Linked DNA regions of Homo sapiens: regions 1 and 3 are each linked to region 2. Evidence: fine-mapped expression QTL. A gene starts in region 2. Each other region holds a variant in brackets. All regions are shown on one strand. Distances are from middle to middle. Region 1 has its middle 43 kb from the start of ASAP2. Region 2 holds the start of ASAP2 (ArfGAP with SH3 domain, ankyrin repeat and PH domain 2). Region 3 overlaps ASAP2 (ArfGAP with SH3 domain, ankyrin repeat and PH domain 2).

The links.
Region 1: its variant is fine-mapped to the expression of ASAP2 in gastroesophageal junction (GTEx, PIP 0.96).
Region 3: its variant is fine-mapped to the expression of ASAP2 in cerebral cortex (GTEx, PIP above 0.99).

The regions. Positions count from the first base shown.
Region 1 is chr2:9,158,126-9,168,516 of GRCh38, reverse strand. No RefSeq gene overlaps it. Among named protein-coding and RNA genes, the nearest start is that of ASAP2, 43 kb to the left of the region's middle. The variant T/C (reference allele first, on the strand shown) is at 5,050.
Region 2 is chr2:9,201,008-9,211,398 of GRCh38, reverse strand. ASAP2 (ArfGAP with SH3 domain, ankyrin repeat and PH domain 2) reads right to left here and starts at 4,587. Exons shown (of 28, transcript NM_003887.3): 1 at 4,169-4,587. The coding sequence starts at 4,294. RefSeq lists enhancers at 3,575-4,505, 4,506-5,438 and silencers at 4,868-5,051, 4,798-5,057.
Region 3 is chr2:9,394,077-9,404,467 of GRCh38, reverse strand. ASAP2 (ArfGAP with SH3 domain, ankyrin repeat and PH domain 2) reads right to left here. Exons shown (of 28, transcript NM_003887.3): 25 at 4,396-4,445; 26 at 3,638-3,726; 27 at 3,072-3,194; 28 at 1-1,215. The coding sequence ends at 1,141. ITGB1BP1 (integrin subunit beta 1 binding protein 1) reads left to right here. Exons shown (of 7, transcript NM_004763.5): 7 at 1-993. Among named protein-coding and RNA genes, the nearest start is that of ITGB1BP1, 24 kb to the left of the region's middle. RefSeq lists enhancers at 3,361-3,924, 10,343-10,391. The variant A/G (reference allele first, on the strand shown) is at 4,934.

The DNA of each region.
Region 1 (10,391 bases), 43 kb after region 2:
TCTTTAGATTTTTCAAATGTTGGTCAACTCATGGGGAACTATGTAAAGTGTTGCATGTGCTGGTATTTTGGAAGTCAAAGTTGACAGCACAATCCAGAGAATGCGGTCCTTCCAGTGACTTTGCGGCTAATGATGTGCTGAGTGACACAGGCTGGAAGGCACTGACCTGCTGTTGCGCTGAATATTGACAGAGGGTCAGTGGACAGAGCTGAAAGCACAGCGCTGGGATGAATGGCTCCTGCTCTGCAAACAGACACTGTTGATAAAAGGGAGGCAGAACCGCAAGTGGCTGACAGCTTTCATTAAACCCTAGAGCTGGAAGCAGACTGAAAGGTGACTGTGTCCTCAGGGCACTGGTGTTTAGTGACTTTCCCAAAGTCTGGCCAGAGACTTTTCACTTTATGGATTTGCCTTGAATTCTTTCTTGCACAACATCCAAGAACGCTCTCTTGGGGTCTGGATGGGGACCCCTTTCAGGTAACACCTCCTCACCTGCTTTTTTGCCTCTTGCGCTCCTCCCTGCCTGCCCCTCAGCTGCTGCCCTAGGCTTTGCAGCAGAGCCACGGTGAGAACTGGACCTGCTGCCTCGCCCTGGGCACCCAGCTCTGGATGTTGATTGGCTCCTTAGTTATCAACAGCCAGCTGTGCCCAGGCAGGCTATACAAGGTCACAAAGGTTAAATAGGCCATGGAGGAAGCACGGCAGAGGCTCGGGTCCTTTTCCTGACTAACTGTCCCACGTCCTTGATTCGTGGCCCCTGGGAAGTCAGTCACCAGGCAGAGGGATGCTCTAGCTGACATTAAGATGAATGGATTGACCACTAACTCATCGTGTGGCTTCGGGCAAATCACATCACCTCTCCAAGTCTCAGGTTCTTTATCTGTAAATGAAAACACTGGTTGAAGATGTTGCTCCAGACATCCAACCCTTGCTTTCACAAGGAATGCAGTTTTCCTTATAGCTGTGCCGTTGACCTTCCTCCACATGCAAACCGAGAAGGGTGTGTGTGACAACCCATGTCCTAGCCCTGTTTTCCGAAGCTTCGGGTGTCACACATTGTGGAATTCTCAGGGCAAAAGGCACTTGTCTTTTGTTTTTCTGTGCTATGCAGTGTCTTTAGCATGGAGAGGAGTCTCTTCACTAGATAGTGGGCGAGGGCTACCTGTCTTCTGTGTTCTATCATCCCCGACTTCCCCACCTTGCCCTGCCCCATTTGAATCTTAAAATGCCGTAAGTGCAGCTGACCCGAGGGCCAGGGGAGAAATAGCTACACGAGCCCAAACCAGAAGCAGCTGGGATCTGTCTGCTGGGCTGTGATTCATGCCAGCAGTGTAGGATGGGGACTCAGGAGAGCTGGGTTCTAGTTTGTTTCTGTTGCTTCCTCATCTGAGCAAGGCTCTCCGCCCAGCTGAGCTTCATTCTCCCTCTGAAACCTCAGAAGAATCAGCTCTCTGGATGCCCAGGTCTTGGGCCTCCTGTCCCTCAGATCCCTTTGCGGCTCTTCCCTCTCTTCCGGGTCACAGAGTGGGCCTGAGGCCTGCAGGCGGGGTACCCAGGCTCAGCATTCCCTGGCTTCTGGAGGCTCTTGGCCAGTGGGAAGCTCTGGGAGGAGACAGAAGGAGTAAGAAGGTGGAAGCCCGGCTACTTCTCCCTCGGCTCTGCCTCCAACTGCAGCTGGGCAGGCCTGCCATGGCCCCAGTATCTACCACATGACCCCAGCCCTGGGCTCAGCTGATGTCACCTCTCACCTAGGGTGACAGTGGCTTCCTGCTGTTGCCTCACTGTCTGCCTGCCAGCTCAGCTCCTCCATCTTCTATTCCTGGTGGAGCCTGGACAACCACAAGACCCACACTCCCAGAGTCAGTGCTCTGTGTCTTCTAGAATCTTCTGTTCCCCACATTTTCTCATTTGAAAGTGAAAGTTTTGTGCTTGGTGATCTTCAGTCTGTTTCCAAACACGCGAGCTCTGCACCTGTAACAAGTCCTTTAGGCCCATGCAGTGGGGGTTAAATTCACCATTTAGTCCAGTGATTCCCAAACTTGCCTGAAGAGCTCATTAACAATGCAGGAATACAGGCTCCAAACCCTCGGACTACAAAGCAGTCTCTGGGGTAAGGCCCAAGAATCTGACATTTATCAAGCATCTCAGGAGATTCTAGTGCAGGCATTCTGCTGCCCATTCTTTTTTTTTTTTTTTTTTTTTGAGATGGAATTTCACTCTGTCCTACAGGCTGGAGTGCAGTGGTGCCATCTTGGCTCGCTGCAACCTCTGCCTCCCAGGCTCAAGTGAGTCTTCTGCCTCAGCCTCCTAGGTAGCTGGGACTACAGGCGTGCGCCACCACCATGCCCAGCTAATTCTTGTATTTTTAGTAGAGACAGGGTTTCACTATATTGTCCAGGCTGGTCTCGAACTCCTGACCTCGTGATCTGCCTGCCTCGGCCTCCCAAAGTGCTGGGATTACAGGCGTGAGCCACTGTGCCCGGACTTGCTGCCCATTCTTATGGTGCCTGTGGCTCCGGTTTATTGAATAAACCTCAGAGACTGCAGAAAGAGCCAGGTGCTGCTCCTCGGTCATGCCCTGTGGCTGGATGGCACTGTGAAGTGTCAGCCACATTTTTTTTCTTAACCTTCCTCTGACTCTTGCACCCAGCAGGTGCTTTGAAGCAAACAGAATCCAAATCTGGCTGATGGGAGCAGAACAAGACTTCTTTGTAGGCAATGGGATGACTCACAGAATCTCCAGAAGGGCTGGTGCGCCAGGCCCAGACAGTACACAGCCGGAGCCATATCCCAACTGCAAAACAGCAACAGTCCTCCAGGACACTCAACCCCTGGTTCTGGCCACAGGCCGCTGGCTACACCAGGATGCCACCATTAGGGTAGAGATTTGATCCCATAGTTAGCTGTTGCCACTGCCAGAGAGCTCTTTGCTCATTTCATTATGAATTTCCAATTCAAGATCAAGGCTACATGTAATGCACTGGCCTCAAGCGAGGCTGGGGAAGTGAGTATCTGGCATTTTTAGCTTCTAGAAGCAGAAGAGGGCTTTTCTCACATGAAGACCCATAGGCGGGAAATTCTGTAAATATAGGAAGGGGGTTCAGCCGCAAGAACAAAAAGAAAGACAATTGTCTGCTGCGTGAACCTTGCTTCACATCCCTCCCCCCGACTGCCTGGTTCACCTTCTGGAGAGAAGGCTTCCGTGGCTCCAAGAGGAAGTTGTTATAGCAGAACCCGAGAACAGGGGATGAAATTCTTGGTTTTAAAACTGTGAATTTTTTTGGCTCTGGACCCATGTTAGAATCTTCTGGGAGACTTTTTTTTTTTTTTTTTTTTTTTGAGACAGAGTCTCACTCTGTCACCCAGGCTGGAGTGCAGTGGCGTGATCTCGGCTCACTGCAAACTCCACCCCCCAGGTTCAAGCAATTCTCCTACCTCAGTCTCCTGAGTAGCTGGGATTACAGGCGCCCGCCACCACACCTGGCTAATTTTTGTATTTTTAGTAGACTCAGGGTTTCACCATCTTGGTCAGGCTGGTCTTGAACTCCTGACCTCATGATCCACCCTCCTCAGCCTCTCAAAGTGCTGGGATTACAGGCGTGAGCCACCGCGCCCAGCCTCTCCTGGGAGATTTAAAAAAATATCCATCCCTGGCCAGACGTGGTGGCTCATGCCTGTAAACCCAGCACTTTGGGAGGCCGAGGCGGACGGATCACAAGGTCAGGAGATCAAGACCATCCTGGCTAACACGGTGAAACCCTGTCTCTACTAAAAAAAACACAAAAAATTAGCCAGGCGTGGTGGCGGGCGCCTGTAGTCCCAGCTACTCGGGAGGCTGAGGCAGGAGCACGGTGTGAACCCGGGAGGCGGAGCTTGCAGTGAGCGGAGATGCACCGCTGCACTCCAGCCTGGGCAACAGAGCGAGACTCTGTCTCTAAATAAATAAATAAATAAATAAATAAATATAAAAAATAAAAAATAAAGAATACCCATCCTTGGCCTAGCACAAACCAATTGAATCAGAATCTCTGGAGCTGGGGCCTGGATGCCAGTATGTTTTGTTTTGTTTTGTTCTAATCTCCCCAAGTGATACTGACATGCGTCAGGGCTAGGAGTCACTGCTGTAAAGTCTGAGAAGCTATGAGCAAGGTGTAAGACAGGGCGGGAGGGTTTAGAATCACATGTGATTAGGCAGAAGTGCTTCCCCCACCCTCCTGGCACACTGGAGAGGGGTCCTGAGCTGGTGGAGAGGGGAGACCCAAGAAGGGGGAACAGGAGGGGGCATGGGGTGGGCCTGACTCTGCCCTCCTCAGGCTGGGCCCCAGGGCTGGGTAGGGGTTGCAGGAAACTTCAGATAAGCTAATGATTGAGGGCAGAGGGTTCTGCTTGGAGCTGCCTGGTCGCCTTCCAGTGCTGCCCCTGCCCCGGGGCACTGGGAGCAGCCAAAGGCTTTTCCTCTTGTGACTGAGCCAGGCTCAGTCTGGATGCCAAAATAAGCCATACCTGAGGCTCCTATGGCCTGGAACGAGGAATGTGGTAGGGACCTCAGGACTGGTGGCCTGATGGGTGGGGCCACAGGAGGTGGCAGATTCTGGAGCCAGAATGCAAGAGCTTGAATCCAGAACCCACCACTTATAGGTCTGTGACTCGGGCAAATTACATAACCTCTCTGTGCCTCATTCTCCTCATCTGTGAAATGGGACTAATACTGTCCCCACCCCGATAAGGTTGTTTTGAGGGTTACCTGGATGGGTATCTGAAGCACCAAGCACCATGTTCAGGAGATACACCGTTAGCTCTGTATGGGAGCATCCTACAGAAATACACACATGGGCATGCAGACGTCTTTACGGATGCCAGCCCAGGGGGAACCAGATGCAACCCCCATGCCCTAATGCCAAAAATGCCCCAGGGAGAAGAGCTGCAACTCTAGGGAGAAAGTGGGGAGCAGAAACACATACATTGTCTAATTTTATCATGAGTCAACTGAGAAACTTTTGAATTGGCAAGATTTTATTTTCTGTGACTAAGAGGAATGGGAGCTAAAGA[T/C]AGAAACTAAGTCTAGCTCCAAAAAACTAAAGAAAGAACCATTTTGCATACCTGAGTATAGGGCTTAAAAAAATGCCTATTTTTGTATATTTTATAGCTCTGGAGCTATAAACTTCCAGGAGACTTTCTTGGGTCATCACAAACACAACACGTCATTGGTGTCTTAGTGCATTTTCTGTTGCTATTAGGTTGGTGCTTTTTATGCCATTAAAAAAAAAAGTATGGCAAAAACAGGCTGGGCGCGGTGGCTAATGCCTTTAATCCCAGCACTTTCAGAGGCCGAGGCGGGTGGATCACTTGAGGCCAGGAGTTTGAGACCCTCTGGCCAACATGGTGAAACCCTGTCTCTATGAAAAATACAAAAATGAGCTGGGCGTGGTGGTGGATGCCTGTAGTCCCAGCTACTCAGAAGGCTGAGGCAGGTGAATCGCTCGAACCCCGGAGGTGGACGTTGTAGTGAGCTGAGATCATGCCATTGCACTCCAGCTTGGGCAAGACAGAACGAGACTCCCTCTCAAAAAAGAAAAAAAGAAAAAAAAGTATGACAAAAACTGCAATTACTTTTGCACCAACCTAATATAACTGAAGACCTGAGACTGGGTAATTTGTAAAGAAAAGGAACGTATTTCTTTTCTTTTCTTTTTTTTTTTTTTGAGATGGAATCTCGCTCTGTCACCCAGGCTGGAGTGCAGTGGCGTGATCTCGGCTCACTGCAAGCTCTGCCTCCTGGGTTCATGCCATTCTCCTACCTCAGCCTCCCAAGTAGCTGGGACTACAGGCGCCCACTACCATGCCCGGCTAATTTTTTGTAATTTTAGTAGAGACGGGGTTTCACCGTGTTAGCCAGGATGGTCTTGATCTCCTAACTTTGTGATCCACCCGCCTCGGCCTCCCAAAGTACTGAGATTACAGGTGTGAGCCACGGCCCCCGGCCGAATGTATTTCTTATAGTTATGGAGGCTGGGAAGTCAGAGGTTGAGGGGCCACATCTGGTGAGGTCCAAGTTCAACGTGAGTTTCGGAGGGGACAAACATTCAAACCACAGCATTCTGGTGTAGGAAAATATTGAAGTTTGTTCACTGCCATGTTCTCTTAATAAAGCAAAATCTTATATGTGACTAAAATATCCAACCACAAGATAATGTCTAAAAAAATTCTAGTTTATGAATATGCAGCCTGTTAAAAATGATCATTTTAAAGAGTATATATAAACCTCGAAGTATTTTATGGTATACATTTTTTTTTTTTTTTTTGAGACAGAGTTTCACTCTTGTTGCCCAGGCTGGAGTGCAGTGGCACGATCTCAGCTCATTGCAGCATGTGCCTCCTGGGTTCAAGCGATTCTCCTGCCTCAGCCTCCCAAATAGCTGAGATTACAGGCGCTCACCACCACACTCAGCTAATTTTTATATTTCAGTATTTTTATATTTCACCATGTTGGTCTGGCTGGTCTCAAACTCCTGACCTCAGGTGATCCATCCACCTCGGCCTCCTAAAGTGCTGGGATTATAGGTGTGAGCCACCGCACCCAGCCAAGTATACAATTTTAGAAACAGACTGCAAAAATGTAAGTATGATGTGATGGGAACCACATGGTTGGCAAAGAATGGAAGACATACGAAGGGGAATATAGTTTTTGTATTAGGACAGTGAGGTTACGACTATTGCCTCAACATGTTAATGTATGTTGTTTTTGAAAGAAACAAGTCCTTCAGGCTCTGGTCCTATCTGCATTAAAACACATCATATGGACTGCGGTGGGACATTCTTGACATTTGAAGTCCCTCGTAGGAGGACTCCGATGGGGGCTGCGGCCAACTGTCCTCAGCAGCCTGGACAGTGACTCTGCAGGACCCTAGGGTGGTTGCCACCCCTTCTCTGCAGTGCCTGGGGCAAAGATGCTCTACCAGAAGCTACTACTGCCAGCACAGAATAAACATGCCATCCCCAATCAGTGGAGAAGTTTGGACTGTTTTATAAGGATGTCAGGGAAATTAGCAGGGGAAATGAGCTATCCATGTAGAAAAGATAAAATCTGATTTTGGTCTTATGTTGGGTTTCTCACACATGGATCCTGAGCTGAGGATTTGTGAGCAGGTGAGTATACATATATTTTTTTGTTTGTTTGTTTGTTTTTGTTTTTTTTGAGACGAAGTCTCGCTCTGCTGCCCAGGCTGGAGTGCAGTGGCATGATCTTGGCTCACTGCAACATCCACTTCCTGGGTTCGAGATTCTCCTGCCTCAGCCTCCCAAGTAGCTGGGACTACAGGTGCCCGCCACTACGCCCAGCTAATTTTTTGTATTTTTAGTAGAGACGGGGTTTCACCACGTTGGCCAGGCTGGTCTGGAACTCCTGACCTCGTGATCCACCCGCCTCGGACTCCCAAAGTGCTAGGATTACAGGCGTGAGCAACCATGCCCGGCCGAGCAGGTGAATTTTTAAGAAGTGCTCCCAGTGAAAGTCAGCAGGGGAGTAGGGAAGTGAGGCTGGGAAGGGACAAGGCCAGGCAAGGATGTAGAATCAGCGAAGTCCTGTGGAGGGCAGCTGTGGCTCAGTCCTCAGGGCAGCCTAGGGGCAGCATAAATCCCATCCAAGTTTGTTACAAGCAGAGATCAGGGTGTAAGTTACTTATCCCCTGCACAGGTTGTTTGTAAGGCTTTCCCTGGGGGACATAAACTCAGCTCTTCCAGGTCTCAGCATGTTGGCACAGTGACAGCCTCTGTCACAGTCTCTGCCTTGCATCATAAACAAAAAATAGATTTTAAATAAATGAGGGGTTTAAATGTGAAAAGTAACTATAAAATCATAAGATGAAATATTTTAAAAAATTTTGTGTGGGGAAAGTTTTTAAAAGAATAAATCATTAAGAAAAGAATCTAGTAAAAAATGAAAAAATAACATAATAAGCATAATAGAATATGAAAAAGACATACGCAACATTAAAATGACCAATAGTATTGTTAAAAACTGCTCCTCTCCACCAGTAAAAATGCAAATTACAATAATAATGAGAGACTATTTTTAAACCTATAATATTGGAAAAAAATTTTTTTAGTGAATTATATTAACTATTGGAGAGTTTATAGGGAAATGATCATTCTTATGCAGTCTTGTGGGAGTGTATATTGGTACAAAGTTTTTGGAAGGCAATTTTGCAATATCTATCAAAATTTCAAATGTGTATGTCTTTTGCATAGCAATTGTACTTTTATGAATGAGTAATAAAAATACATGCGTAAGTGAGCAAAAAATCTATCTAATATGTGTACATATGCACTGATATTATAAAGTGTAATATAGAATATACAAAAGCTTATGTATACTAATGTATATGTGTATACTAATATTAATAGATATATATATTTTTGAGACAGAGTCTGACTCTGTCGCCCAGGCTGAAGTGCAGTGGTGGGATCTTAGCTCATTGTAGCATCTACCTCCCAAGTTCAAGCAATTCTCCTGCCTCAGCCTCCTGAATAGCTGGGATTACAGGTGTGAACCACCACGCCCAGCTAATTTTTGTATTTTTTGTTAGAGAGAGGGTTTCACCATGTTGGCCAGGCTGGTCTCGAACTCCTGACCTGAAGTGATCCACCTGCCTAGGCCTCCCAAAGTACTGGGATTACAGGCGGGAGCCACCATGCCCGGCCTTCATAGACTTTTTTTTTTTTTTTTTTTTTTTTTGAGACGGAGTCTCACTCTGTTGCCCAGGCTGGAGTGCAATGGCATGATCTCAGCTCACTGCAACCTCCACCTCCCGAGTTCAAGCAAGTCTCCTACCTCAGCCTCCCGAGTAGCTGGGATTACAGGCACCTGCCGGCTAGTTTTTGTCTTTTCAGTAGAAACGGGATTTCATCATGTTGGCCAGGCTGGTCTGGAACTCCTGACCCCAGGTGACCTCCCTGCTCAGCCTTCCACAGTGCTGGGATTGCAGGCGTGAGCCACTGTGCCCAGCCAATAGATTTTTATAGTAGCAAAATATTTTACATTAATGAGTAACAACAGAAAAATAGTTAAATCAATTATTATATATTTACCTAATGGAATGTGATTGAGCCAGTGAAGTAATACCAATCTAGGTGTACAACAGTTTATTCTAATTCTGTTTTCTGAAAGCTATTAACTACTGTAATGAGATATTACTGCACATCTATCAGAATGATTAAGGTAAAAATGGCACCATCCAATGCTGGTGAGAATGCACGGAAACTGGATGTCTCAGACATTGCTGCAGGAATATAAAATGGTACAGCCACCTTAGAAGACAGTTTGGCAGGTTTTTTTTTTTTTTTTAACTATTCATGCATTTACCATATGACCCAGCAATTGCACTCCTGGGCATTTATCCCAGAGAAACGAAAACTTATATTCACACATAATCCTGTGCACAAACATTCAGAGCAACTTTATTTGTAATAGTCCCAGACAGGAATTAGCTGAGATGTTCTTCAACGGGTGAATGCTTAAACAAGCTGTGACACATGCATGCTATAGAATGCTAGTCAGCAGTGAAAAGGAACAAACCTGCTGGCACACGCAGCAACTTGGATGGGCCTCTAGAGAATTCTGCTGGAAAAAAAAAATTCCATCTTTGCTGCTCTGCCTATGGAATAGCCATTCTTTTATTCTTTTACTTTCTTCCTTTTTTTTTTTTTTTTTGGAGACAGAGTCTCACTCTGTCACCCAGGCTGGAGTGCAGTGGCTCACTGCAACCTCCGCCTCCTGCATTCAAGCGATTCTCCTGCCTCAGCCTCCCAAGTAGCTAGGACTACAGGTGCCTGCCACTATGCCCGGCTAATTTTTGTATTTTTAGTAGAGACGGGGTTTCACTATGTTGGCCAGGCTGGTCTTGAACCCCTGACATCAGGTGATCTATCTGCCCGCCTCGGCCTCCTACAGTGCTGGGATTACAGACGTGAGCCACTGCGCCCAGGCTATTCCTTTACTTTCTTAATAAACTTGCTTTCACTTAAACAAAACAAAACAAAACATACTAAAAAAGGATGGGGGAGGGGTTGGGGGGGAGGTTGGTGTGGTTATTAATAACCTCTTTAAAGAGGCAAAAGAAGGATCCTTTGGGGCTGGAAGTGTCCAGTATCCTGACTCCGGAGGTGGGTACATGACATAGAAAGGTGAGAAGATTGTATAGAACTTAATATGCACCCATACTCATGCCAGTGAAGACAAGTGAACCTGGGAAAACTTGACAAAGATCAGTGGGTTGGATGAAGGGCCGTAGCCTGGTTGGGGACATTGCGCTACAGTTTTGTGAAATGTTGCCATTGGGGGAAACAACCAAGGCATCTTTCACACTGCCTGTGAATCTTCTCTCATCTCAATA
Region 2 (10,391 bases):
AAAAAAGAAGAAAAAAAAGGAACAAAAAACCCTTACTTTTCAAATTTCTGCCACAACTGCTTATTTTTTCCATTATTTCCAAAAGCACAGGGCAGACTCTGGTTGCAGCACCAGACTTTGCTAAGTTTGCTAAAATTGTACAAAATGATGACTTGAACCAGAGAAGGTGGTCAAGTGAAAAATTATAAAATACAGGTATGCTCTCACCAGCTGCCAGGACAACAAACTTTTTTTTTTTTTTTTGAGACGCAGTTTCACTCTTGTTGCCCAGGCTGGAGTGCAATGGCACGATCTCGACTCACCGCAACCTCTACCTCTTGGGTTCAAGTGATTCTCCTGCCTCAGCCTCCCAAGTAGCTGGGATTACAGGCATGCGCCACCACACCCAGCTAATTTTGTATTTTTAGTAGAGACAGGGTTTCTCCATGTTGGTCAGGCTGGTTTCGAACTCCTGACCCCAAGTGATCTGCCCGCCTTGGCCTCCCAAACTGCTGGGATTACAGGCGTGAGCCACCGCACCTGGCCTGACAACAAACTTTTAAAAAATACACATGGGTCACCTGTAATCCCAGCACTTTGGGAGGCCAAGGCGGGCGGATCACAAGGTCAGGAGATCTAGACCATCGACCATCCTGGCTAACACGGTGAAACCCCATCTCTACTAAAAATACAGAAAATTAGCCGGGCATGGTGGCGGGCACCTGTAGTCCCAGCTACTCGGGAGGCTGAGGCAGGAGAATGGCATGAACCTGGGAGGCGGGGCTTGCAGTGAGTGGGGATCGAGCCACTGCACTCCAGCCTGGGCGACAGAGCGAGACTCCATCTCAAAAAAAAAAACACATGGGTTAACAGATACACGGTAGTGTTTCATTCACTCACCCATTCAGCCATTCATCCATTTCCCTGACACTTCCCCCCATGTAAATCCCATCCTCACTCCAAAAGCCCTCACTGGGGCCTGTGGACTCACTAACTATATAATCTGGTAACTAATTGTCTGGCAGCTTCTGTGCTATGTACTATCTTCCTAAACCCTCACCACAATCCTCTGAAGTTGATAGGTATTATTAACCAGACTTTAAAGCTGAGGAAAATAAGAAAATGTTAGGCATCTCACTCAAGTTCACTCAGCTGGCAAGCTGTAGAGCCTGAACTTGAACCCAGGTCAATCTGACAAAGGAGTAATTTAGAGAATTCGGCATTAAGAAAAGTAACAGGAAGCAGCATGGTTTCTGAAAACAGCAGGAGCCAAGTTCAAAGTCCACTTCAGAGCTCTATAACCTTTGGCAAATTACTTAACCTCTCTGAGCCTCAATTTCCTCGCCTATAAAGCAGAGATAAGGACTGAATTCAATACCTGTGAGTTTCATAGTACAGGATAAGGGCCCAACAGTTACTATAATAATATTCCAGCAACAAGTATGCAAATCAAAACAGCACATTTTAATTGTAAAATGATTCTTTGGCAGATAGAACCTACATTGGAAATAACAGATTCAAAAAGGTTAATCAGTTTAAAATTAGTTTGCTGGCCGGGTGTGGTGGCTCACGCCTGTAATCCCAGCACTGTGGGAGGCTGAGGCAGGTGGATCACCTGAGGTCAGGAGTTCGAGACCAGCCTGACCAACATGGTGAAACCCCATCTCTACTAAATACAAAAAATTAGCTGTGCATGGTGGCGCATGCCTGTAATCCCAGCTACTTGGGAGGCTGAGGCAGGAGAATCGCTTGAACCTGGGAGGCAGAGGATGCAGTGAGCCAAGATTGTGCCATTGCACTCCAGCCTGGGCAACAAGAGCAAAACTCCGTAACAAATAAATAAATAAATATAAAATTAGTTTGCTAGTTCCGTGATTCATTTGTTTAAACATAAGACCAAGAGCTTGCAAATTTTATTTATTTGTTAAATGAGTAACTTTATGTCATGATACCCTCTCATGTTTCGTCTCAGTATGAGAAGATTTTTGTTTAAAACCAAAATACTGTACACATCAATTGTTATTAAACCATACATAGAACAAGTTTTGGTAATAGACACGAACATTAGACACCTGGGAAAGAGCATTATTTAAAGAAATCCACATTGATTTACCTCAGAAAGTGAACAACTTTCAAATTTAGTTATAAAACCAAGCTCACACATACCATCATCATAGCATGTATGTAGATTTGCTTAAAGTGAAATAAACCTGAAATGATTTTAATTTTTCCATTTTGAGACTTGAACCAATTCTTGGGCTTAGACGGCAGCATGAAGCAAGCTTGCAATTTAATGAAATGACCAAATCCAGTCTCTTTGTAATCTGCTCAGTAACTGAGCTCTAGGGTAATCTCCTGCACAGCATACAAAAAGAGCTTTGGAATTATACACTGTAAACTAAAATTAATCAGAGAAAGGTATGCCAATTTTAATAGCAATTCTTGTTTGCTTGGCTTTCCAACATCTGCCAGTGTTAATAATATTTAACTGACAAACTGCAGTGGGGAAAAGCAACAGAACTTTAAACATAATCAAGCTTTCTAAAGAAAGACATCATGCACAATGCTTCCTTCCCTTAAGAAATATTCAGCTACCTTTTTGGTTGCAATCATTCCATAAACATTATTAATGGTGTATTCTCAAAACACCGTGCTTTTTAACTGGCACTTAGGAAAAAATTTCATTCACCCATCCCCATCTGCCTCATTTGAAGGCATCATCTGTAAGCCTTGCTGCTAAAAGTAGAATTAAGTGATCTGGGGAATCACCGAATTCATAGGAAAGGTTTACATGCAGCTCTCTTCCGCCAAATTAAATGGAGAGAAGGAAGGCTACCCAAGTTATATTAACAGGATTCAGAATGCTGAATGTTACTTTTGACTCCCTTTTATTGACTGTTTACAGCTACAAAGAAAAAATTTTTCCATTAAGGGAAAACATTCTGGATTTTTTTTCAAGCAATTCCTAATAGCAGATGCTTTGTTCAAATGGGAAAAAAAAAAAAAAACCAGAAAAAAAAAATAACGCCATTGCTTCATTTAAAGCTCTTTGGTGACACCCACCCCCCCACCCACACACACACTCCTGCTAGCCCAGGCGTCTTCTGCTAAAACACCTGCAATACCCAATTTTAAAACTGTAACCTGACATCCTGGCCCAGAGACATTTAATCACAGATTCACTATTGCCACACGTGTGACTTGTAAACCTATTCTGAGCCGAGCAGAGTGCTAAGCACTTCACACAGTCTCTGATCCTGGAAAGGATGCATTACTAATCCCGTTTGATGGGTAAGGAAAAGGAGGACTGCAGGTGAGGATGTGCCTCAAACCACAGCCAACGGTGGCCCCTGGACTCACAGACTCTGCCCCTTTCCCCACGGCTTTAATTTTCAACCAAGCTTCTTCGTTCCTACGTGTTCCTCTCCCCAGGACCTGGAGAGCGTACTGCTTAGCAGCTAGGCGTGATGACTTTGCACCTTGAGAGCACTTTACTAAAACCAGGCCTTTTCCAGGTTGAGGGGGAAGGGCGGCATTCCGGGTTCAAGCAGGTGAGACCCAGGTAACCGGGGAGCGGCTCCTGGAGGCTTCTTGGACCCAGAAGCGCCGACTCTCACACACCTTGCCCGCAGTTCCTTCTCCGGGCACGGGTGGAGCGCAGCCAGGCCGCCCTGGCTGAGGCGGGCACGCCTTCCCGGGCAGCCCGGGATGCCCCGGACCCGCGGACCCGAGGGTGGGGGCCCTGCGGCGCTCGGGGGCTGCGGCGGGGAGCTCGGAGCGCGGAGCTGCCCCCGCCGGTCCACTTCAAGAACAAGTTGATAAGGTCCGCACCGGGTACCAAAGACCCCGGGCGGCGGCGGGCGGCGGCGGGCAGCGGGATCCCCCGCTCGCCGCGGACCCCGACTCTGGACAAAGTTGGCCGCGCTGCGGGGAAAAGACCAGGCCGCGGAACCCCGCGAGGGCCACGAGGCCGAGAGAGGGGAGGTCTTAAAGAGGCCCAAGGTGGCCATCACCCATCTCCTCCGAGCCACCTAGGCGGGAACAAAGGGCTTCTGTCTCGGGCAGGGTTGGCCCGGCCGCGTCCGGCTTCGGAGCAAAGAAAGTTTTCTCGGGATGCGGATGCGGGAGCGGCGGGCGGGGCTGGGGCGCGGGATACCTGCGGCCGGAGCCGCCGCGCAGGCCGCCTCACCTCCTCGATGGCCGCCACAGTGTTCCGGCACTGCGCCGTGCGGGTGGTGAAGCTGGAGGCCGTGGGCGCCTTGTAGTCCTCATGGGTCTCGGCCACGAATTCCGACACGGAGATCTGGTCCGGCATCGCCTCGGCGCGAGGGCGCTGGCGCACAGCCGCAGGGGCGCCGCCGCCTCAACTGCCGCAGCAGGCTCCGACCGCCGCTCGGACACCGCCGCTGCCGCCGCCGCTCCGGCCCGCGGACAAAGGGGAGCGCCGGGCGCGGGAGCCGCGCGGGGCCTGGCGGCGGAGCAGGGGCGGCGCGCAGCCCCGCGCAGCTCGGCCGGTCCGCCCGCCTGCGCGCCGAGGGCTCCGAGTCCGCTGCCGCCGCGTCCTCTCAGAGCGAGCCCCGAGGCGGGCGCGCACAGCCGGCGGGAACTACCCGCCACCCAGCCGCGGGCCCCGACGCCTCCCGCGGAGAGGGGCGGGTCCGGGCCGGGGGCGGCGGCCGGCCGGGCGTGGGGCGGGGCGGCGGGAGGACCGGGCCGCCAATCGGCGCGCTCGCCGCTGCCGCGCCGCCGGGAAGCGGATCCCGCAGGAAGGAAGGCGGCGCGCGCCCCGGCCCGCCGAGCCGTTCCTGGCCGCCGCGCGCCGCATTGTCTCGGCGTTCCGGGCCCCGCGCGCCGCGCCCATGCCCCGCCCCCAGCCGGCCCGAGGCCCCGACTCCGACCCGCTGCCCGCGAGGGTGCGTGTGGAGGTGCGCCCCGCCGGAGTCCGGCCTTGTGCGCGCCAACCGCCCCCCGCCCACGGCGCGGAGCACCTCTGGGCTCCCCACTTGAACGGCGGGCCGCGCCGGCCCATGAGGAAAGCGGGGTGCGGAGCTCGCCCCCTGCCGGAGGATGCGCTCCGCCGGCGGGCACCCTGCGGGGACCACAGCCGGACGCCAGAAGTGACCTGACCGTGAATGTGCGCTTTGCGTGCAGTCATTGCATCGTCGCAGGCCTAGGAGACAGATGAAGAGATGGGTGCTTATTTTATATAGGGGACACAGTGTGCCCAAGAGCACAAGATAAACGGCCGGGTGGGGATTCAAACCCATGTTCCCTGACTCAAGTGTGAGTGCTTCAGAGCGGTGAGGGGCCCCTACTAAAAGTCCCAGTCGCGTTTCCTAGGCTGCCCAATGATAGGTATTCTCGGTTATAGTTTTAGGGTACTAGGCCAGGACCCACCCTGGGAAGGCTGCTGAACGCCCTGAAGTGGTATTCCCGCAGGCAGAGGAGGGAACCGAGGGGGTGCAGGAGGAGGAGGAGGGGGAGAACGTGCTACAGCAGCCAGCCAACCTCACACAAAACCGGGCCAGTAAAGGGTTCGAACTGGTACCGATTTTTATTTACAGCTCTTAAGGAAATTCTCGGTTATACTGAAAAATCCAGAAGCTCTGAAGATACCAGTCAAATAAAATCACACCCTATAACTCTACACCAGACTTGTGGCATGGTTTCTGTAGCTGCCAGCGGTAAAACCAAGAGAAACTTTACAAAAACCTTTTGTGCATCTGAAAAGGAGGAAGTGTGAGAGACACTGGAAATTCAATATGTCAGACAAAGCCGTCTCCTGACACTGCAGGACAGTAGACCAGTCAAACAATCTTTTTAAAGCCCCCATGTAAGAAGTTGCTATATGAGGTGGCAGCTTGGGTCAGACATTATGTATGGCCTTTGGTATTTTAGTAGCACTGCATGTAAAATTTAACTTTCTAAAATCGCTGTATTCGTGGATAGCTTTTATCATTGCACTAGACAACAAGTTACAATTTAAAAATTGTATCTGTTTCTTTTTATGTTTTTTGATCCTTTTGGTGTCTGAAGTTTTCCTCTATTTGCAACCTTCTACAATTCATGTTTTGTGTTTATTATTTATATTAATACATCCTCTCCAACACCAGGCAGATTCTGTTCCCGCCTACCTAGTTTCCCAGCTACAGTTTTTGACATGAGGGAATATGCTGAATAACTTTTCAAGTCTTGATTTGTAGAGGGCTGGTCTCTATGAGGCTATGAGGGATCTAAGAAAGAAAGTCGGGTTTTTCCTTGATGTCTAGTACAGCATTAACCAGACTAATCAATACTTCTACAAGGACAAAGTTAAGCTTGGTATTCTCTGTTCTCTCTTTATATACAACTCCGGTTCTTGTTTCTTTTAGTTTAATTTTGCAGATACAGGAAGCTTTAGTAGCCTCAAAAAAATAAAATTGCAAAGCTGTGTTGCATTGCAAGGCTGGTGGAAAACAACAATTAGTTACCAAGTTCATTGGTGGCCTAAAGAGGATACCAAATTGGTAGAATGCTAGAGCCATTTATTCCTCCATCATCCCTTAGAAATCTAACTTGCCTACTGCATAAGCCTAGAATTAAAGCAAGACCAGAGCAAAACATAGCTAATGCCTTTCTGAGATTAATATAAGAATGAGTAGCTTCCAATAAATAACAATAAAATTAAAGTTCAACATGGATCAAGGAAACACTCTACACATACTCATTTTTTTAAATGCATCAAGAGAAGAAGAGTATGCTGGTAATGTCCTTACAGGCCTATACTTCCTTAACCAGAATTACTAAAAATCCCTGAAAATGTAGCTTTACAAATAGTTCTTAATAGTAAAATTCATCTGAAATGAACTGATGTGAGGCTATGTGTGGTCTTGTTTATCCTACCTCATGTGAATATGTATGTTTTGCTGCAAAATATAAACATGGTTGATTATGAAGTATTGCCCCAGACCCTACTGGGGGTAATTAGGAATATGTTATTATATGCAATGTGTTACCTTTCTAAAATCCGAAAATTTCTGAATCCACACATATCTGGCCCTTGGGGTTTCAGTAAGAGATTGTAGGCCTGTATTATTTTTTTTTAAAAAAAAAGGCGAAGAAAAAGGAGGAAGGAAGAAGGAGAAGGAAAGGAAGAGGAAAAGGAGAGAACGAAAACGTGATGTTAAAGACATCGTTTCCAGAGAAGAGACTCTCCTCCCAAAAATGAAATTTTTAGCGGCCCAGTGAGATTGGCCAACAGCCCATTTTCCAAAGGAATCTTCTGCCTCTAGTAGTTCACAAGAACCTGGGATTTATCACTCTCAGATCAAGGTGTAAAATATGTTCTTGACTCTGAAATTTGCTTGAGGGTTGGCTGGTTTACACAAGACTTGTCCAGTTCACTTGCTATTAACTTGTAAATGATTACTCTTGGAATGGGCAAATATGTGCTTTGAAAGAACTATGGTAAGAAATAGTAACAACAACCTAAAAACCCTGGTGATGTGAACATGGAAGTATAACTGAAAGTTTCTTTTCGTAACTTAATAATACTCTGCCCAAAATCGTGTTGCTGAAGGGACCCATTTATCCCCAAAGTGAGAGAAGATTGAGTACATTTACCACAGTTATCTCACTTTAGCACCCAGAAACTATTTTACAAATGAAAACTTGGGTTTTGGTAATAAATTGCTTCTCTGTGATAAGTAAGCTAGCCTCCCTAGGCCGGGCGCAGTGGCTCACTCCTGTAATCCCAGCACTTTGGGAGGCCGAGGCGGGCGGATCACGAGGTCAGGAGATCGAGACCATCCTGGCTAACACGGTGAAACCCCGTCTCTACTAAAAATCCAAAAAATTAGCCGGGCTTGGTGGTGGGCACCTGTAGTCCCAGCTACTCAGGAGGCTGAGGCAGGAGAATGGCCTAAACCCAGGAGGCGGAGCTTGCAGTGAGCTGAGATCCGGCCACTGCACTCCAACCTGGGCGACAGAGCGAGACTCTGTCTCAAAAAAAAAAAAAAAGAAAAAGAAATAAAGCTAGCCTCCCTAAAGAGTGTAGCTTGGACTAGCTAATTTCTAAGGCGCCTCCCCGTCCTGGTGTCCTGGTGTTCGTGCTGCCATTTTCTGTGTTTTATGTTAGTTTAGACACAAGAGAGAAAAATGCCACAAAGCATTGCTAAACATTAGTACTGAGACTCTAATTATTGTCCTAGACTTTTGAGAATGAGGCATGTTTTAGATGCCATTGGGAGCTAAATTTTTGAGAAAGTGGTCATTTTGTTAAGATGGTAGATTTAGATAACAAGCAGATTTATTCATTGCTAACTTTACAGATAACTTGAGGCCTGTTCATTTTTTTATTTTAACAAAGCAGTTTGAATAGATGACACACTCATTGCTGAACTGGAAAGAGAGTAATAGGTAAATTAAATATGATCAGTCATATACGGGAGTCACTTGTGCTGGCTCCAGAGACCTGATTCTTCAATTTTCAGGAATTTTGCAAGTTGGTTGTATCTCTTCTCTATGGTAGAAATATTATATCATGGTGTGCTAGTGAACATCTCTTCCCAACTCCATGTTCTGGTAGTTTGAGATTGTCCATGGTAGAGTATTTACAGCAGGAAAATTGGCAAATGATAAAAATCAAGGCCTGATTTATTGTTTTGTTGATTGTCTAACTTAATAAACTTAATGCAGTTATAGAGAAAGTATCATTCATGCGGATTAGACTTAAAGGTGTGTCAGGTCTACAGCCATCGCATTGTAAATAATGAAATTTTTGAGGAAATACCCTTCTAATATTTACAAACTAGTACATGATTGAGTAAAAAGGTCACTCATGTCATTGACAGATGAATAAAGTTATAGCATGCATCTTCACTGTTTCAGTTTTGTCTTATTAACATAAACAAAAAAGTCAACTAAATTCAGGTTGGAACTACACTCATTTGTTTTTTTTTTTTTTTTTTTTTTGAGACGGAGTCTCGCTCTGTTGCCCAGGCCGGACTGCGGACTGCAGTGGCGCAATCTCGGCTCACTGCAAGCTCCGCTTCCCGGGTTCACGCCATTCTCCTGCCTCAGCCTCCCGAGTAGCTGGGACTACAGGCGCCGCCACCGCGCCCGGCTAATTTTTTGTATTTTTAGTAGAGACGGGGTTTCACCTTGTTAGCCAGGATGGTCTCGATCTCCTGACCTCGTGATCCACCCGCCTCGGCCTCCCAAAGTGCTGGGATTACAGGCGTGAGCCACCGCGCCCGGCCTACACTCATTTGTTAATGACATGAGCAACTTTGCTGAGCTGGGCAATAATCAAGCATTTATTTATAGTCTTATTTTGTCAAATTGTGGTTGAATTGCAGACACAGATTGGCTATGAATGAAAGCATTTGGCCAAAATCAATGAAACCATTCTGTGAGAATCAATTAACTATATGGAATTTACACTAAAGAGTAGTGTGTAATTTGTAATTACTCATAAATTGTGTGCTACACATTTTTTAAATCAGTAAAAGTTAAAATAAACGTATTTACTTATGTTCACACATACACCTTTTCAGAGAGTAGATTGTTGAACATTGACCAGCCCACTTCTGAGTATAATTGTATCATCCTTGTCCAGAGTCAGGGCATTGGAACTTCCAGCTCTGAGTCACTCTTATGGACTTAAAACACATACAGGATAAAATCTCAGTAAATTGGACTATATGAGCAAAGGAACTTGTGTTAATAAAAAGTATTTGTCTTTGAGTTATTAAGAAAATGCCATGTGTTGTTTTCAAGTACTCAGAACAACACAACCCAGTACCGACAGAGGGTGTGGTTTGTTTTAATGAAAGAGCAAAAAAGAGTTTAATAAGCACTCTGTATGTAAATAAGTTTCTCTAAAGCTTTTAAAGTGCATGCAATAATTTATCTTCTTGAGTCAACTCAGTCTCTTCCGCCTCCACGAAGACCCATTCTTAATTTTGCAAGGCCCCCTCTTAGTTGGTGCAGAAGTCCACTTGTGTCTTATCTGGATATGTTCTCCCTGGGCTAAAGAATGTCCAGTGGTTTCCGTTTGGCCCCTAGATAAGGTTTAAACTCCTTCGTCACAGTTTGTTCCAGCCTTTTCCCCAACTTCCTTGACCCTGGCCCTCCCCACACCATATTTTGACCCAGGGATCTGCAAACTGTGGCCCAGGGGCCAAATATAGTTCACAACCTGTTTTTGTAGTGTTTGTGAGCTGAGAATGGTTTTGACACTGTTTAATGGTTGAAGAAAATGAGAAGAAGAAGAATATTTCATGACGTGTGAAAATTACATGGAACTCAAATTTGAGTGATTATAAAGTTTCGGCAGCACCACACCATTCTTTTACCTCTTATCCACGGCAGCGGAGTTGAGTAGTTTCGACAGACGTCAAATGGCCCCCACACCTAAAATATTTGCAATA
Region 3 (10,391 bases), 190 kb before region 2:
TAGACAACCTAATCCTCTACTACCACCCCAAGTAGCTTAAGAATGATATGATGGCCTGAAACAGTAAAAAGTGGGATGTTTGGGAGTATTACCTGGGACCTATATATTTCTGATATGTTCTTGATTATAAACAGATGGACAGATTCAATTTCAAGACAGTGTGACTACCATTCCTGTTGGAGTATTATAGAAATACAAGACACTAAACTGAGTAAACATTCTCCTGGGCTAGAAGGGAAGGCAGTGGTACACTCAGTAGGAAACAGCAAGTGATGTGTTAATACAGCATGGTCTGCGCCACAGAATTCTACTGTGTACAGTTGCTTTCTGTGTGACTCAGGAAGTTCAAGAAGGCAAATTCCAAAACACCTAAAGCATATAAACTAATTTAAAAGAACTGTTTTGCAATCCATCATCCTTAGTTTTTAACCAAATTCAGGAAATGCAGTTTTATATAACCTGGAACAGAATGAACTGTAGTTACCCTACGTTGTCATAAACCATCAGTAGTTTTGTTAAGTATGATTGTTCACAACAGGTTATACATACATGCAGAATATAATGATAGCTGCAACCTCACAAATTAGGGCTAGAAAGTACAATGCTAATGTGTAAATTTCCAAGTTGCTTTTTAAACACTGGGTGGATTTCAAAGGAATGTGTGTCTTTAAAGGTGAACTGATGGCATTTTATCGAGAAAGTTCAGAGCTGGGCTATGGACTTCTGAAGCAGCAGTTCACTGGCCGCCTAAAATAATAATTGTGATAAAGGTCACCAACTCCAGAACTGGGCCAAGGAATGCAGGAAGAATTTATTCATTAATGCAAACATTTTTAGGTTTAGCTAATTCCGTAGAGGCAGGATCTTGATTATGTATAATAGTTAAAATAACTTTTCAGTTCACCTGTTGGGAAATTCAGTTTTTCCTAATAAATGCATAGCAATGTTTCATGAAAACCACAAATTATAAAAACAATTACTGATATGTAAAAATTGCCTCTGAGTTTTTAAAACAGAGCAGTGGCATTAGAGAACATGGGCTGCCATACAAACAGTTCATGAAACTGGTTATCTGGCAAGAGTTTTGGTACCAATAACGAAACAGGAACATAACTGTTAATGCTTTTGTTCAGTAGCAATTCAGTCAGCGATAAAGTGCACAAATGACACCGGGAATGCGCCTTTGCGACCAGGATCTCCATCAATGTGGCCAATCTGAAATGGAGAAAAGTGTAGGTTGTTATTAAAATTCCAAATGTTGGTGGAAACTTTGAAGAGCATTACATAGAGCGTTTGGTGAAGAAAAGCAAGATTGGTTCAGAAGACTCTTCCGACAAGGAATTACTTAGGTAAAACATCCAAATGATTTTTGTCCGTTTTTCCTCACCACATTTCAAATAGTGCAGGCCTCTCCCGTGTAAGGAGCTCTTCCCAGCCATGTCCCAGATGTTCGCTCGTGGGGATGGCCACCCCCACCTGTTCTTGGGAGGCACACAGGTCAGCTGTCTGACCACTACTTCCCACTTGCCATTTTTCAATGAATGAATGAATGAATGAACTGAGTGTCACAAGTTTGTGAGCTGCAACGTCACCTAAAGTGGCAAAGGTATAAGTTGGCCCCATTTCAATGAGTTAAGTACTTGTGGAAGGCTTCACTCTATCCACTTATGTTCCCTCTTGGGTAGATACATAAATTATATCCAAATATGATCTCAAGAGTGTAAATGATGTAGGCAAATAAAAGGCTAAAAACAGCCAAAATATGAATGGTGGGCTTTTTGTGGAGTGGGTGGGGGGTGCTGTGGTTATGGGCAACTTCTGTTTTCTTCTTTATGCCTCTATTTTCCAGTTTTGGAAATGAGCAGGTATTTTCCACATGGCTAAGCCTGTGGTCAGGTTGGCGCCCCTTCCGGATGGTGGGTTGTGGGCAACTGTGGGAGCTGGCTGGTTCCCGAGTAGCTGGGATTACAGGTGCCTGCCACCACACCTAGCTAATTTTTTGTATTTTTAGTAGAGAACCATGTTGGCCAGGCTGGTCTCGAACTCCTGACCTCAAGTGTTCCGCCTGCCTCGGCCTCCCAAAGTGCTGGGATTATGGGCGTGAGCCACCGCGCCCAGGCCACAGACACTTTCAATCCATTAAGGGCAAACGAGGCCACAGGAAAGACCGGTGAACCCAGCTCTGCCAAATGAAGGCAGTGCTGCCTGGCCCTGAGAGCTCACAGCGCCTCTGGAGGCTGAAGACATGCAGTTTAAACACTAGTGGGAGTTCTGGGAGGGACAGTGACTAAAGACAGTGTCCAAACTCCTCGCACTCGACAAAGAAGTTCCCCTAAATCCTGTGAGTTCCCAGCTGAACTGTCTGCTCTGAGCTCAGTTGCGGAGCTGTGCCACTTGCGTCTACTGTGTGGTGGGCTCAGCCTGGGGCTTTCTGTCCACGCCCCATTCAAGCCGGTTCATCCACCGCCCTCACTGTCTGCAGCTGCCGCTTAGTGGGTGCTCACAAGATCACCTGCACCAGACTGTGTGTGTGTGACCTCCCTGTCACAGATGATCCCACTAATGCTTAAAGATAAAAGCAACCTGCCCCAAGCCACCAGCCCCTGAGTGGCCAAGTCTGAATTCTTAGGTGGCCGGCACTCATCTTGCTCCCACACCCTGCTGGACGCCTGGGCGGCCACAGCTTGTTTCAGGACCAGACTCAGGCCTGGGGCTCTGCGCTCTAGGTCAGCTCTCTCCAGACACCCGATTCCACTAATCCAGCAATGGGGGGTGATGACCTAGAAACTCAAGACCTCAAAATGAAGGAGTGTCATTTCAGGCCCTCATGAGTGCTGTGGAAACTGCACCCTAACAGGGGAGGAAGCCACCCTGGGGAATAATCAGGCCTGCTCAGAAGGGGGTGTCCATGGAGGAAGCAGCTCCTGAGGATGCTAAGGGGCGGAGGCACCAGGAACTACATCTGGACTGCTCAGGCTGAGAAAACCTCACCTGCAAGCCCGTCTCTCCAGCCAGGTGGGCAGGGACGTGGCTCAGCCCCCAGGAACCTCCCAGGCCCACCCTTGACTCACCCACCACTCCTGGTCCTCCTCCCCGTCCACGATGATCACATCCCCCTCGGAGAAGGTGAGCTCATCGGGGTTGTCAGCCACACAGTTATAGAGCGCTTTCACCCGCTTAGGCTTCAACTTGGTCTGGGTCAGGAGAGGGAACAACGGTTAGTGTGGCTGCAGGCCTCAGCTCTCAGGGCAGAGAGCTCAAGCACCCTGCCTTCCCCGGTCTCAGGAGTCCCGTACCTAGGCCTGAGAAGCCTGCAGATGCCAAGGTGGGGCAGGTCAGTGCAGCTCAGGAGCCAGGGAGAGAAAAGGGAAGAGCTCCCCACCAAGCAGAGAGAAGGGGCCAAGGGCTGGGAAACGAAGCGGCCGGGGCAGGGTACTCTGAGTGGGCCCATTGTGGAGCTGCGGCAGGAGGGCCAAACCCACCAGCTGCCCAGATCCAAGCAGTCAGGTACCAAGAAGAGCCCCGCCCTGCCCCAGCCAGGGGAAGAGGGGAAGACTTGCTTCCCCTGAGCCCTTGTGAAACCACCTGCACCCCCCTGGCTAGAGCAGAGAGGCAGGAAAGGGGGCTCGTCACTTACTGCCTGCGACTTCCTAGGCATGGGTGCAGGGGGCTGCAGGACCATAGCATTGGACAGAGGACCCAGAGCTTCCGTTGCAGAGAGATCCACTGTAGGGCAAAAATGAAGCAGCTTAAGACATCCCATCAATCACAGCCATGAGATGTAAACAATGTACAAGCCACAGGGTGTGTCTGAAAGCAGGTTTCCCCAGGTGTTCCGATCTGTTGAGGGGAAAGGGAACCTTCTGACTTGGATGCAGACCTTGGAGAGCTTGTGTGGCAGCGAGTGTCCCCCAGTGAGCCTGCCATGTCAGCAGGAGGGGACAGGTGAGGGGCCCCAGGACTGAGCTGCTCAGGAGCAGGGGTCTCAGAGGCCGAGGGAGGAGGGAGGATGGCAGGAGGGAGGAGGGAGGAGGAAGGCAGGGAGGAGGGTGAGAGGAGGGGAGGGGAAGGGAGGGGTGGAGGAAGGCAGGTGGCGGGGGAGGAAGGCATGAGATGGGGGAGGGAGGGGGAGAGGAGGAGAAGGGAGCAGAGGAAGGCAGGAGTGGGGGAGGAAGGAAGGAAGGAGGGAAGGAAGGAGAGGAAGAGGGCAGGAGGGGAAGGGGGCAGGAGGGGAGGGGGCAGGAGGGGAGGGGGCAGGAGGGGAGGGGGCAGGAGGGCTGTGGAATGGCAGACAGCTGGGCCCTCCCTCAGTCCTGACCACCTGGCAGGAAACATCCCCCACATTGCCCCCATGGACCAAGCAGAAACAAACTCAGTCCCAAATTAAATAATTACCAGGTCCTCTCGGTTGGCCTTTGTTGGTCAGTGGGGTGGACTTGTCAGCCCTACAAAGACAGGGAAAAAGTAGATTTACTGCTACCGGAGGGCACCTGCCCCTTTCTCATCCCCTTTTATCAGAGAACCTTCTGAGTTCAAGCTCAGAGTGTGTGAGGTGGTTTCCTCCACTGTCACTTAGCTGTCTCTTTTTTATGGGAAAAGGAAGAATGAGAGGCCCTGAGGAAAGTGCTAAATTCAACGTTTCTGATCCTAAAACCAGGGCTTTTCCAGAGCACTCTGTCCACGTGAGCCTGCCACCGATGGCCAGGGTCTGGAGTGATGCTGGGCACTGGCCACTGGCCCCGCCCCGAGTCTGCTCAGCCCCTTCCCTGCCTTGGTCCCATCACATGAAAGGGCAGGGCTGAACCTTAACCTCAGGCCCAGATGGCTTTGCCAGGACGGGTCCGAGCACTCTGGGTCAGCGCTGTCCATGCCTCTGCCGTCCCTGCTTCTGGGAACCAATGTGGCTGACCACGGGCTCAAGCCCCATCCATGA[A/G]CCTCTGGGCCAGCACACCCCAAAGCCACAAGGTAGAAACACATGAGTGAGGAAGTAGTTCTCAGGGCTGGCAGAGAGGGGTCCCTCATCTCGAACCTGCCACCTGGCAGCCCTGGATAAATGGGTTCTGGAGAGTCAGCATTTTCATCTGCAAAAGGTGTGACACAAGATCCGTCAACTCCAGAGCTAAGGACCAGTGCCAGTGGCTTCAGCTCCCCGGTGGATCTCCTGGACCTAGCATAAAGCCAGGCACAGGACGGGGGCTGGAGAAGCAGAAGAGGAAGACCAGGGAGGAAGGGAAGGGGAAGGCAAGGATGGGATTCTTTCCACTGTACGCTCCCGTCTGTCGACACTCCCTTCGCTGCTCGGAATGAACCCTGTCTGGCCTCAATGCTTGCAGTCCCAGAATGAAGGGAGAGAAAACATCACATGGGTTTTGCTCATACGCTGAAGGAACTGAAAAGGAACTTTGTTTTATTCCATAAAACAAAGACCCCTCCCATTTGACCAGTCTAGCCATTTGTTTTCCATCTGTGTCTCTGGGTGTAAATGTCTCTGCAGACATCACTACACTGACCTGGCTGACCCCCTGGCCGGCAGTCATCCCTAACTACAGAACACTCGCAGGGAAGGCCTGATCCTCTGAGACAGCAGTGAGCAGACTTTTTCTTTAAAGAGGCAGATAGTAAACTTTTTAGGCTTTGTGAATTTTTTTTTTTTTTTTTTGAGATGGAGTCTTGCACTGTCACCCGGGTTAGAGTGCAGTGGCACAATCTCGGCTCACTGCAACCTCTGCCACCCGGGTTCAAGCAATTCTCCTGCCTCAGCCTCCCGAGTAGCTGGAATTACAGGTGTGCACCACCACGCACAGCAAATTTTTTGTATTTTCAGTAGAGACGGGGTTTCACCATGTGGGCCAGGCTGGTCTCAAACTCCTGACCTCAGGTGATCTGCCCACCTCGGCCTCCCAAAGTGCTAGGATTACGGGTGTGAGCCACTGTGCCTGGCCTTTGTGTTTGTTTTTTGAGTCAGGGTCCTGCCCTATTACCCAAGCTCGAGTGCAGTGCGGCAATCAGTTCACCGCAGCCTCGGAACTCCTGGGGTCAAGTGATCCTCCCGCTTCAGCCTCCTGAGTAGTTGGGACTACAGGTGCACGCCACCATGCTTGGCTAACTTTCAAAATTTTTTGTAAAGACATGGTCTCACTATGTTTTCCAGCCTGGTCTCGAACTCCTAGTCTCAAGCAATCCTCCTGCCTCGGCCTCCCAAAGCTCTGGGATTATAGGTGTGAGCCACTGCACCCAGCTGGTTTTGTGGATTCTAGCATCTCTGTTTCAAGTATTCAACTCTGCCACTGTGGTGTGAAAGCAGCCCCAGACTACATAAAAAAACAGGTGTGGCTAATGTTCCAATAATATTTTCTGAGTGCTGAAGTGAATCTCACACAATTTTCATGTGCCACAAAATATCCTTTTGAGGCCGGGCGCAGTGGCTCACGCCTGTAATCCCAGCACTTTGGGAGGCCGAGGCGGGCGGATCATGAGGTCAGGAGATCGAGACCATCTTGGCTAACATGCTGAAACCTCATCTCTACTAAAAATACAAAAAATTAGCCGGGCGTGGTGGCGGGCGCCTGTAGTCCCAGCTACTCAGGAGGCTGAGGCAGGAGAATGGCGTGAACCCGGGAGGCGGAGCTTGCAATGAGCAGAGATCGAGCCACTGCACTCCAGCCTGGGCGACAGAGCGAGACTCCGTCTCAAAAAAAAAAAAAAAAAAAAAAAAAATATATATATATATATATATATATCCTTTTGATTTTTTTTTCCCAACCAATTACAAATATAAAAGCCATTCTTAGTTCTTAGCTCATGGCCCTAAAAAACAGGCAGCAGGCTGGATGTGGCCTGTGAGCCATAGTTTGCTGACTCCTACCCTAAGAGAACAGGTGTGAAAATTCACATTTATCCCAGAGACAAAATCACCGGTGGTGGGGAAGGGATAGCATCCTTCACAAGGAGGGCGTACCGGTGTGTTCCTTTACAGTCAGAACTCCACTGGGCGCTGACGACATGGCTCCGTCCATCCCCGTCTGTCCCGGGTAGCCCTAACCTCACTTGCCCTGCTTCCCTTTTTCCTGCCAGTCAGATGTGAAACCAGGTAAAATTGTGTTCCAGAGGAAACCTGTCCAGCTCCCGCCAGCTAGAACGCTTCTGAGAACAAGGAACCTGCACCTCACAGCTGACAACCACGGTTCTCAGAGTCCCAATAACTGCTGGGAGCTGACGGCTCCTTAGCCAGGACTTCAACACGTGATTTGTTTCTCTCGAAAAACAGCAGCATGGAAAGCGTAAATCCCAGGGAGTCATAAGGGAAGGCAGAAGAGAGCCCAGAAGCCAAGAGAAGCATGGCCTGTGGCCACTTTGGTATAGAGGCAGAAATAATTAGCACTGGAAAGCCCATTTATTACAGCATAATTCAGTAGCTGTTTAAGACTAGGAGGGCACAGATATGCATATTTTATTTTTATTTTTTTGAGACGGAGTCTGGCTCTGTTGCCCAGGCTGGAGTGCAGTGGTGTGATCTTGGCTCACTGCAACCTCCACCTCCTGGGTTCAAGTGATTCTCCTGCCTCTGCCTCCCGAGTAGCTGGGATTACAGGTGTGTGCCATCATGCCCGGCTAATTTTTGTAATTTTAGTAGAGATAGGGTTTTGCCATGTTGGCCATGCAGGTCTTGAACTCTTGGCTTCAAGTGATCCACCCACCTTGGCCTCCCAAAGTGCTGGGATTGTAGGTGTGAGCCACTGTGCCCAGCCCTGCATGTTATATTTTAGAAAGTTATCTTGCAAAGTAGCATTTAAAAAGTTTTGGGAGTCTTCTGGTTAAAATGGCAGATTTAAGTACATTTACTTCCATTTCTTTCCAAGGAAAAGGATTTTTAAAAATTAAACCTAAAAGAGGTGAGGCGCAGTGCCTCATGCCTGTAATCCCAGTACTCTGAAAGGCCAAGGTGGGAGGACTGCTTGAGCCCAGGAGTTCGAGACCAGCCTGGGCAACATAAGGAGACCCCCACCTCTACAAAATATAAAAATAAATTAACCGGGCATGGTGGTGCGTGCCTGTGGTCCCAGCTATGCGGAGGCTGAGGTGGGAGGATCACCTGGGCCCAGGAGGTCGAGGCTGCGGTGAACCGTGATCACACCACTGTACTCCAGCCTGGGCAACAGAGTGAAAGATAAATCACAGTCAACCTAGTTGATCTCAGGAATGGAATCCCACTCCAGCAGTGAGGAAGGCCCTGAAATGCTCCTATCTGTAGTCCTGAAGTGTCCTCAGAAGGCTCAGGACCCTCTGGAAGGGGAGAAAGGCAAGGTAGTATGCAGAAGAATTAGCCAAAAATCTGTCTGAGGAGCTCCTGAACCCCTGGAATCTCGCCCCAGCTCTGAGTAGCCTTAGCCGCTGCCCTGCCCAACCTACTAAGGACAGGAAGCTTCTATTCTTGGAGAGGGCAAAACGGACGGTGTCTGGATGGGGGATACCAGGTGCGGCTATTGGGAATATCTTGAAAAACAGAGGGACTAAGTAAAAGTTTAACTTTATTTCTCTACTCCTAAAAAACTTCAGGGATGGGCTGGGCACAGTGGCTCAAGCCTGTAATCCCAGCACTTTGGGAGGCCGAGGAGGGCAGATCACGAGGTCAGGAGATTGAGACCATCCTGGCTAACCCGGTGAAACCCCATCTCTACTAAAAATATAAAAAATTGGCCAGGCGTGGTGGTGGGCACCTGTAGTCCCAGCTACTTGGGAGGCTGAGGCAGGAGAATGGTGTGAACCTGGGAAGCGGAACTTGCAGTGAGCCAAGATCGCGCCACCGCACTCCAGCCTGGGCGACAGAGCAAGACTCCATCTCAAAAAAAAAAAAAAAAAAAAAAAAAAAAAAAGAAAAAAAACACAAGAAAAACAAAACAAAACAAAACAAAAAAACAAAAACACAGTAGTGCAGGGATTACAGATGTGGGCCATGGTGCCTAGTCTCCAAATTCTTTATTTTTTTATTTTTGAGATGGAGTTTCATTCTTGTTGCCCAGGCTGGAGTACAATGACGTGATCTCAGCTCCCTGCAACCTCCGCCTCCTGGGTTCAAGGGATTCTCCTGCCTCAGCCTCCTGAGTAGCTGGGATTACAGGTGCATGCCACCATGCCCAGCTAATTTTTTTGTATTTTTAGTAGAGGTGGGGTTTTGCCATGTTGGCCAGGCTGGTCTCAAACTCTGGACCTCAGGTGATCCGCCCACCTTGGTCTCCCAAAGTACTGGGATTACAGGCGTGAGCCATGGCGCCTGGCCCCAAATTCTTTATTGAGAGGTGGAACTGATGACTTCCTTGTGCCACTCCACAGTCCTCTCTGCCCCGACTGTGTCTGAGCTTGTAACTGAGCAGTGACGTATGGCGGAAGTCATTCCGTGCCAGCTTCCAGGGCCAGGCCTCTCTCTGGGGACCTGTCCGTGGACCCAGCCACCGTGATATGAGGAAGCCCATGCCAGGGACATGTAGGTGTTCTGGTCACAGCCCAGCTGAGGCTCTGGCTGACAGGCAGCGTCAGCTACCACGGGGGGCGTGAAGAGACTCTGACCGTAACCCCCAGCCAACGAGTCACCTCCTGTGTCCAACCACCCCCAGGCTTCGAGTCCTTTCAGCGAAGGCTCCAGACACTGTGGAGAAAAGACGAAGACCCCACAGTACCATCCAAATTCCTGACAATCTGTCAGCAGAATAAACTGGCTGTGCCTCATGTCTGTCAGTCTGGTGTGGTTTGTTACTAGAACAACTGAAATCAGAGATGTCAATGTGAACTCATGGATTTCAATACAGAAATATACGGAATAGAGAGATAAGTGGTGTATGTATGTATCCATGTACATGTGCGTATATTTCCAAGTTCTAACAGCTCAGAGGGCCTGTGTGGGAGCAGTGACTCTCCACCTAGCCCCCAGAACTTGGCCTCTAAATATCATTTCCACTAAAAGGAACCATTTCCCACCATAAAGATCCAGATTAAGAGCCACGAACTGGGGCCTGGTGCAGTGGCTCACGCCTGTAATCCCAGCACTTTGGGAGGCCGAGGCAGGTGGATCACGAGGTCAGGAGATCGAGACCATCCTGGCTAACACGGCGAAACCTCGTCTCTACTAGAAATACAAAAAATTAGCCAGGCGTGGTGGGAGGCACCTGTAGTCCCAGCTACTCGGGAGGCTCAGGCAGGAGAATGGCAAGAACCCTGGAGGCAGAGCTTGCAGTGAGCCGAGATCACGCCACTGCACTCCAGCCTGGGTGACAGAGCTAGACTCAGTCTCAAAAAAAAAAAAAAAAAAAAAAAGCCACAAACTAGACCCATCTGCAACAAGGGGCATTATTTGGACAAACAGCTAAGCTTGACCTGGGTCTAAGGATTGGGTGGTG